Linked DNA regions of Homo sapiens: region 1 is reported to be linked to region 2. The links are microRNA targets in miRTarBase. Many come from high-throughput screens and were not tested one by one. Region 2 holds a microRNA gene; the other region holds the end of a gene's coding sequence.

Region 1 (4,000 bases), not on the chromosome of region 2:
CACAGCTTTAAATATAGTGAACAGGAGAGACTATTTGAATGACATACCAACAACACTAGGGTTGAATTAGTAGCTGGTTCAGCCTGGGACAATCTAATTTATTCCATTCTTATTGTCTTAAAAACTGGCTTCATTTTGTTTCATATTGCAAACTAATTAAATGTAATTTTAAAATCTGTTTCCTTTCAGGTCAAGTGAAAAGTGCCAAATCTGTAACAAGCCATGACCAGAAGAGAAGTCAAGATGATACCTCCAACTGAACATACGTTCTGTAAAAGGCCACATTTTCTTTTAGTATCTGAAAGGCAAACCTATTCATGCCATTTGAAATCGAGAAAACAGATGTGGGTTTCTTTAAGTATTTAAGTACAACATTACATCGCCCTTGTTTTGTTTGACCTGTTCAGCATGCTTATGTCCGGACTCTGGCCTCGCCTCTGCTCCTCCAAGCACAGCCCCATGTGAGTTTCACGTGCTCCTTCAGGAAAGCACTTGGGTATAAATCATTCGTGAAGACCATGTGGAGGCTTTAAGAACTACTCAGAGAATCTAATAATTTTCTGTGTAATTGAGGCATTCCATATAAAAGGACATATTTGGCTATTTCCAGAGAAAAAATTTGTTCTCCCTGCCTAAAAAGGAAATCTTATGGAATGACACTTGGAGCAAGGAAATATTAAGACCAGCTTGGATTAGGAGCCTCTGGGTACAACTATCACTTTTTATGTCCAAAATTAAATTTCACCTGTGAGGTGGGGTATACCTCTGAGTAAAACCCCTCTTTATCTTTGACCTCCTTCTATCTGTAAATTAATAAACACAAATCTGTATAGTTTTATACTTAGAAGAGTTCTCCTATTCTGTAAGGCTGGCAATACAGATATTGTAACTGGACTGAAGACCATTTCCCCTCCCATTCTGTTTTATATTTCCTAGGTTTTAAGTACGATAGTTGGTTTCATATTGGTGGTTTGGAAAGCCTTTTTTCTAATTTATTTAATCAGGCGCCTCAACCTTCTCTTACGTTGTGACTTTATGGAAAAGTTTTATAGAAAAGAAGATGGTTTTTAAAAAGCACTTATTGTTCGTTCTTATGGCTTTCTCTTCTTTGTCCTGTTCTGAAAGCTAGTTTTCCCTTATGGGGAGAAGGAAAAGGAATGGGTAATTCAGTAATACTTTGTCAGTTGACATTTATTTAACCATGGTTTTGAGATAACCCTGTTTTAAATGTCTCCCAAAGTTTTTAGTTTTTTATCCTTTTAATGTATGAGCAATTCAGTTTCAATTTTTTAAAGCAAAAGAACACTGCAATAACTTTCAGCCACCTTTTTGGCCGACCCAGTGGGTGTTTATGGAGCAGTACAAAGAAGACCTGTGTTTGCTCCTTTTTTTTTTTTACCCTCCTTCTCCCTTCTCCCTTTTCCCTTCCCTTCCCCTTCTCCTTCCTCTCCCTTCCTCTCCCTTCCCCTCCCTTCCCCTCCCTTCCCCTCCCTTCCTCTCCCTTCCTCTCCCCTCCCCTCCCTTCCTCTCCCCTCCCCTCCCTTCCTCTCCCCTCCCCTCCCCCTCCTCTTCTCTCTCCTCCTCCTCTTCCCTCTCCAACTCCTTCTTCTTCCTCTCTTATCTCTCTCTCTCTCTCCACCCCCGCAACCTTCTTGACAGGGTCTGCCTCTCCTGCCCAGGCTGGAATGCAGTGGAGTTATCATGATCATAGCTCACTGTAACCTGTAACTCCTGCACTCAAGTGATCCTCCCACCATGCTTGGGTAATTGAAAAAATAAACATTTGCAGGCTGGGTGCTGGCTCACACCTGTAATCCAAGAACTTTGGGAGGCCAAGGCAGGCGGATCACCTGAGGTCAGCGGTTTGAGACAAGCCTGGCCAACATGGTGAAACCCTGTCTCTACTAAAAATACAAAAATTTAGCTGTATGTGGTGGCACGTGCCTGTAATCCCAGTGACTTGGGAGGCTGAGGCAGGAGAATCACCTGAGCCCGGGAGGTGGAGGTTGCAGTGAGCCGAGATCGCACCACTGCATTCCAGCCTGGGTGACAGAGTGAGACTCCATCTCAAAAAATAATAATAAAAACAAATAAAAATTTGCAGAGATAGAGTCTTGCTACGTTTCCCAGGCTGGTCTTTGAGTTCCTGGCCTCTAGCATTCCTCCTGACTTGGCCTCCCAAAGTCCTGGGATTACAGCTGTGAACCACTATGCCTAGCCCATTTTCTTAATACAGTATATTGTGCGAAGACCGGTGTCCTTAAGGACTGCAATAATTTAGGAAAAGTCCAGGTGCCATTTTTGTCCTTTCTACTCTAACGCTACATTTTCTGAGCTTGGATTTTGAATACAACATTATTTTCCAGGAGTGTGTTCCAGATTAGGGAGGGATTCCTGGATTCTTACTTCAAAGATTTCTAAATTAGACCAAGGCATTTCTGGAGACCCCTTAGTATAAAATAAACCTATTTTCCCTCTTTATTAATCTTTCAATCCTTATCCTCAAACTTTTTATAGCTTTTGATATATTTGCTGATGCTATTTTTAAACTCCTTGTGTTGGTACTTTTATGTCAATTATGATTCCTCTACTCTCTTAAAACTGCTTTTCTAACTCCTTCACCAGTTCCTCTTCTTCCTCTTGCCCCCAGTTGTGAGAATTTCTCAAAATTCAATCCTAACCTTTGGTAAAGCAATCTGTAATTCTCTATTCCATGACCTTCCCTGTCACCAGTATTATGAAGAATGAGTCTTTCCCTCTTTAGGGCACCCATAGTGCTAATAGCCTCATACTGTATTCTACTTAATTGTTCACAGGTTTGTCCTTCTGTGTGAATTGTAAGCTTTTTGAGGGTAGGGATTTTGTTTTGTTCTTTTTTTATACCTAAAAAGTCCATAAAACAGTAAGTTAGTAAATAACTGAATGAATTATCTTTTAGTAATACCTTATACATAGAACTCATTACCTCTTCATTAATTTATAGAGCTTGTGCACCTTTATAAAAATGACTCCCAACACTTATCTCCATATCTTGCCCCATTTTAACTCCTACTCCTCTAGCAGATAAGCCACACATACATCCAACATCTCTACGCCTAATTTCTCCTCTGACCTTCTATTTTCTAAGCCTTCACATTGAATGTCATTTTACTTTCTGGCATGTGAACCAAGTGATTACAACAGATTCCTGGATCTCATGTCAAAGATTCCTTTGATGTGAGAATCTGAACATTTATTTATATCTATAGATTTACAATTTTAGTCCATTTTGAGAGTTATAGTATCTCTTGTTACATATTGTTACATTGAATTATAGATCTATTCATAGGCAACTTTAAATGCCCGTAGGCTTTGAGTTTGAGCTGTTACATAGGTAGCTGCATGGCTTTTTCTGAACATCCACAAAGTAATTACTATTCAAAGTGCATACTAATAAATCAATGAAGCCTCCACATTATTTGGGAAGTAGTCAATCAAAGGCTAAATTCAATGTTATGATAACTTTTAGGCAGTAGTTCTTTAGACTTCTGTATTTAATTGAACAGAAAAAATGTAAAAAAAGGGGAGGAGATTGATAGGACATCATTAATAAAACAACTACTATCTACTATCACTATCATTTAACAAAAGACATTTTAACACCAGAAAAGGGAAGAGATCTCAGTGTAGGGCTCTACCCTTTAAGTTAAATAAATTAAGTTTTATTATAGACCTTTATGTTGTATTTATTTTTCTTATTTTGTCATATATGATGGAACTTTTGTCATGAATCAGAACTGGCCTGTGGTCCAGCCTTTGAGAACTACTGCTCTGGACTAAGTAGATTGCTATTTAGATTAACATGATGCCCCCAGATTGTAAAGGACTGACACTTGCCCCCATGTTCAATCTAATATGTGGTAGATTGTATTTTCCAGGATGGCCACATCTCCCTTCCCACATGCTCTTCTTACAATATGGTCATGACATTCCTCACGTAGAGAGATGTGTCTCTGTTCTT
Region 2 (4,169 bases):
CCTCAACCTCCCTCTCAGCTCAGGCAATCCTCCCACCTCAGCCTCCTGAGTAGCTGGGACTATGGGCACATGCCACCACACCTGGCTAATTTTTGGTAGAGATGAAGTCTTGCCATGTTGCCCAGGCTGGTCTCAAACACCTGGGCTCAAGTGATCCACCTGCCTTGGCCTCCCAAAGTGCTAGGATTACAGGTGTAAGCCACTGTGCCCAGCCCAGTTATCATTCTTGCATTCTGTCACATATTATGGCCTCATTGGGAAAACCAGGACCTCAAAGTCTGAAACTTTCTGACTCACATATGGTTAAACTCCTGAATAACCCACCCACCTGATGTTGGGGCTACTTCAAGGTGACCACTGAGAAATATTGGAAGGTATTCCTGGCTGGAAAAATATCCCCCTGGCTGTCCTAGCCTATGGTCTGAAATTCCCACCCTGATGGCTGTCCCTGAAGAATAAGATGATGAAAGGGGATCTGGACCAGCCAGGGAAATTGCAGTTCAATTCCTGGCTTCTCCCTTATGACACTGGGCCAATCACCAAATCACCAAGAGCCTTAGACAGCCATTTGTAAAAGGTGAACAATCACAGTGCTTCCTTTAACTCCTGCAGTTGTAAAAATATCAGAATATGTGTTTGGCTAGCAAATAATTTTGTAAACGTTAAGTAGCATACAAATGAGGTACACTGTTCTTGTTGACGTTTCTGTCTTCAGTGGCTGGAATAAAGTGCAGATCTTGGACGCAGCCACTTGGACCACTAGTGGCCCATCAGTTAATGACCTGTTCCCAGAGTCCTCCCTCTGTCTCTATCAGTTAATAGGACTCTTCAAGAACACAGTGGGTACCAACTAACTTTTGGTGGCAGAACCTGCAGGCATGGCTCTGGGAAGCAAGAGGTGGCAGGAAGATTCCAGGAAGTTGGGATTCTGGAATGGGAAGGAAATGGGAGTGGAGGCACATTTGCCTACTTCCTAATTTTATGCCACACTGGCCATGACAGATCACACTCTGAGCCTATTTCACCAGCTGTCCATTAGTTGTGATGGGAATTAGTTGATCGATATTAACTAAAGGCAAGTGGAAGTATCGTTGGTCTCAGCTCTGAAGGGCTTCAGATAAAAATCTGCCAGCATTGGTTAAGAGAAGATTGGAGAATTTCAAATGAGCCATTTCAGAGTTTCTAATTTGCTTCCATGAGGTGTTTCTACAGTCAGGGACTCTTACATATGTTGAATAACTCTGCTGTGTCCACCAGAGTAATTACAGCTAAGTTCATTTCAGCAGACATGCATTGAGGGTCTGCTTTGTGCAAAGCCCTGACCAGGAGATATTGGAAAAATGAACTAAGATATCCTGGACTCCGCCTTTGAGATTTCCAACCCAAGCAAGGATTGATATTTTCAATCTTTAGGAATATGGTGGCCAAATCACCTTCTTTTCGAGCAACAGAGTAGAACAGGTTCTTCTTGGCTTAGGCTGGAGTCCTCGAAGCTCCGTGCTGTGGGAAGTGACAACTGAGCACCCCTTTGCTGTCCCTGCCCTGCTCAGAGCCCTAGGCGAAGGATGACAAAGGGAAGCCCACAAGTCACATGGCCAGGTGAAATGGGGTGTTGTAAAAACTTACAAGTCCAGAAAAATTAGAGATGTGAGAACAAAAAACATTCAGTCATCGACCAATGTATTCTTCGAGATCTGATTCTCGGAAATCTACAACTTTTCCTAGTAGGCCATCCCCATTCTACCCACTCTGCAGCATCACAGTCCCATACATGATGATTCCCAATGACCATTCGCCAGGACTAGATGGTCTCCCACAAAAATCTTGCCAGTAATGGGAAAAACAAACTGCTCTTTCAGATCATTTAACAATTGTTTGACGTTAAGAATTACTGGAGTATAAACATGCTCCAAGAGATTATACCAGTTATTGTAATTCTAACCAGTTGTTATCATTGTTTCTTCTGGTTGAGGTTTGCGTCTTTCTCTCTAGTTCGACCTCAGCTTTCGTCTGACAGTGACAGCTCCCCCTCAGGACCAGCAAGGATGATGCCCCTTCAGGAGCAGATGGCTCCTGCAGCCCTCTCCAGATATGTCCCCACCTGGCCATCTTAGTCTACATGAAAGGCCCAGCATTACAGAGATATTTAATAATCACATAATACTTATCAGCAAATAGAAAGAATCCTACTAAATCTTTGAGAAATTGTTTTCCTGTTAAAACACTTAAAAAATAACAACTAATTACAGGGAACAAGAACCACTGGGCAACAGGGTGGGCAAGGCCATCACCATGGCGAGCACTGAGGGTTATTTCGTGCTAACTTGTGAACCTGGGGCAAAGCATCCCCATGTAGCCCAGTGAATGTGATTTGGTAGGTGGCTAAGGTAAGACATCTAGGTGAGTCATTTTCTGTTGACCTAACAAGAAGCAAGGTTAATCTTCTAATCCCCTTGGGCAATCAATCTCCTTCTCAGCCTTGTTTCCACTGTGATGGCATCAGCCCAGGAGGACTGCGTGCCTTTGCCAGCACTTACTTGTGTTGATCTTCTGCAGGGAGATGTGCTTTTCCAGCAGCCTTCGCAGCTTCACCTCGGCGCCATACTTGCCCAGGGTGCCATTGTCAGCCAGGATGAAGTGGGTGTGGGAGTTGTTGAGCACAGAGAGCTTACTTAGAGGGTTGGACATGGTCTGGTACACTCTTGTTACCTGACAAAGTGCACAGCGCAAATCAGACCTGCAGGACTTGGATGTTAAGACCAACAAGGGAAGCAAGCACAATACATATGTGTGGAGTGACTGCACTAAAACTTATTCTCACATCTCTACCCTGCCTTTTGAAGGTTTTATTTTTGCCAATTGTTACATTAAAATAGAAAGAAAGTTAATTGTTTTAGATAATGACAACCTAGCAATTGCACCCCTGGCATTTATCACAGAGAAATGAAAACCTATGTTAACCTCAAATCCTGCACTGGAATGTTTATGGCTACTTTACTTGTAACAGCCAAACTGTTCCTCAACAGACAAATGGTTAAAGAAACTGGTGCCTCCATATCATGGGATGTCAGCCAGCAGTAAAAAGGAATGAAGACCAATACATATGGCAACCTGGACGCGTGTTCAGAGAACTATGTGGAGTGAAAAAAAAGCCAATCCCCAAAGGTTACATTACTGTATGATTCCATTTACAGAACCTTCTTGAAATGCGGGGTGGTGCAGATTAGTTGTTTCCAGGGGTTAAGGAAGAGGTGGGGGTAGGAAGGAGTGAGGTATATGTATATGAAAGGGCAACAGGAGGGATCCTCGTGTTGATGGAAACATTCTGCACCTTGACCTTATCAATGACAGTATCCGGGTTGTGATCTTGCATTATGGTTTTGCAAGATGTTACCATTGGAGGAATGGGAAAGGCTGCAAGGGAGCTCTCTTATTATTCTTACAACTGCATCTGAATCAACGGTTACCTCAAAATCAATCATTAATTTTAAAAAACTGCCAACATTTGCAGAGAAAACACTTACATCCTTTCCAACCAGGTCTTCCTTATTCTCCACGATGCCCCATGGAGCAATTCCTATAGCACAAACCCGGCCTCTGGACTTGGAGGAGTGGTCTTTCAAGGCATCCCCTACGTGGCTGATAACACCTGTGAGCAGCCATTGGTCATATTTTAGGCTCTTTTACTTCCCAGCACACCATCATTCATGAAATTTAGGGACACTTGCCCTGAGTCCCTACATTCCCTACAGATCAGGGGTGAGACACACTCATCTTTATCATTAAAACAAAGTACACTGAAAGTCTGAGCTCATGATAACGAGCAATCTTGCATTAACTCTAGAAACGGGAAAACAAAAACAGAAACCAAAGCAACTGTGTAGGGATTTCCTTTACAGATGTCTAAGGCCTAAAGCTGGAAATAACTGGAGTCTTTTTGGCATTCCTTGGCTGCCTTCAGTGAAAATTGAGAGCCATACTGCCTGGTATGTTCCTTAATGTCTTTGTGCCTCAGTTTCCTGTCCTATAACAGGAAAAGGATTGTCGAGAGGTCTAATGAAGATGATGCTTGTACAGGGCTCAGTTCAAGGAATATTGCATGTCATGGGTGACCCAGAGATGTTGACCATTATGACAATCATTACTATATTTGCTGTTTTTTTTTAAGA

What was found. Region 2 holds the annotated microRNA hsa-miR-211-5p (UUCCCUUUGUCAUCCUUCGCCU, at 1,557-1,578, opposite strand). A microRNA usually pairs through its seed, bases 2 to 8, with sites in the 3' UTR of a target mRNA and lowers its output. Matches are read on the target gene's strand: a 7mer-m8 pairs with bases 2 to 8, a 7mer-A1 pairs with bases 2 to 7 and ends in A, and an 8mer does both.
Region 1: the mRNA of ANKRD45 is a reported target of hsa-miR-211-5p. The part of its 3' UTR that is shown has no 7-base or 8-base seed match.

The regions. Positions count from the first base shown.
Region 1 is chr1:173,606,405-173,610,404 of GRCh38, reverse strand. ANKRD45 (ankyrin repeat domain 45) reads left to right here. Exons shown (of 6, transcript NM_198493.3): 6 at 190-2,069. The coding sequence ends at 260. Among named protein-coding and RNA genes, the nearest start is that of SLC9C2, 5.3 kb to the right of the region's middle.
Region 2 is chr15:31,063,539-31,067,707 of GRCh38, forward strand. It overlaps MIR211 (microRNA 211), which reads right to left and starts at 1,603; the gene lies at 1,494-1,603. TRPM1 (transient receptor potential cation channel subfamily M member 1) reads right to left here. Exons shown (of 28, transcript NM_001252024.2): 6 at 3,525-3,649; 7 at 2,538-2,709.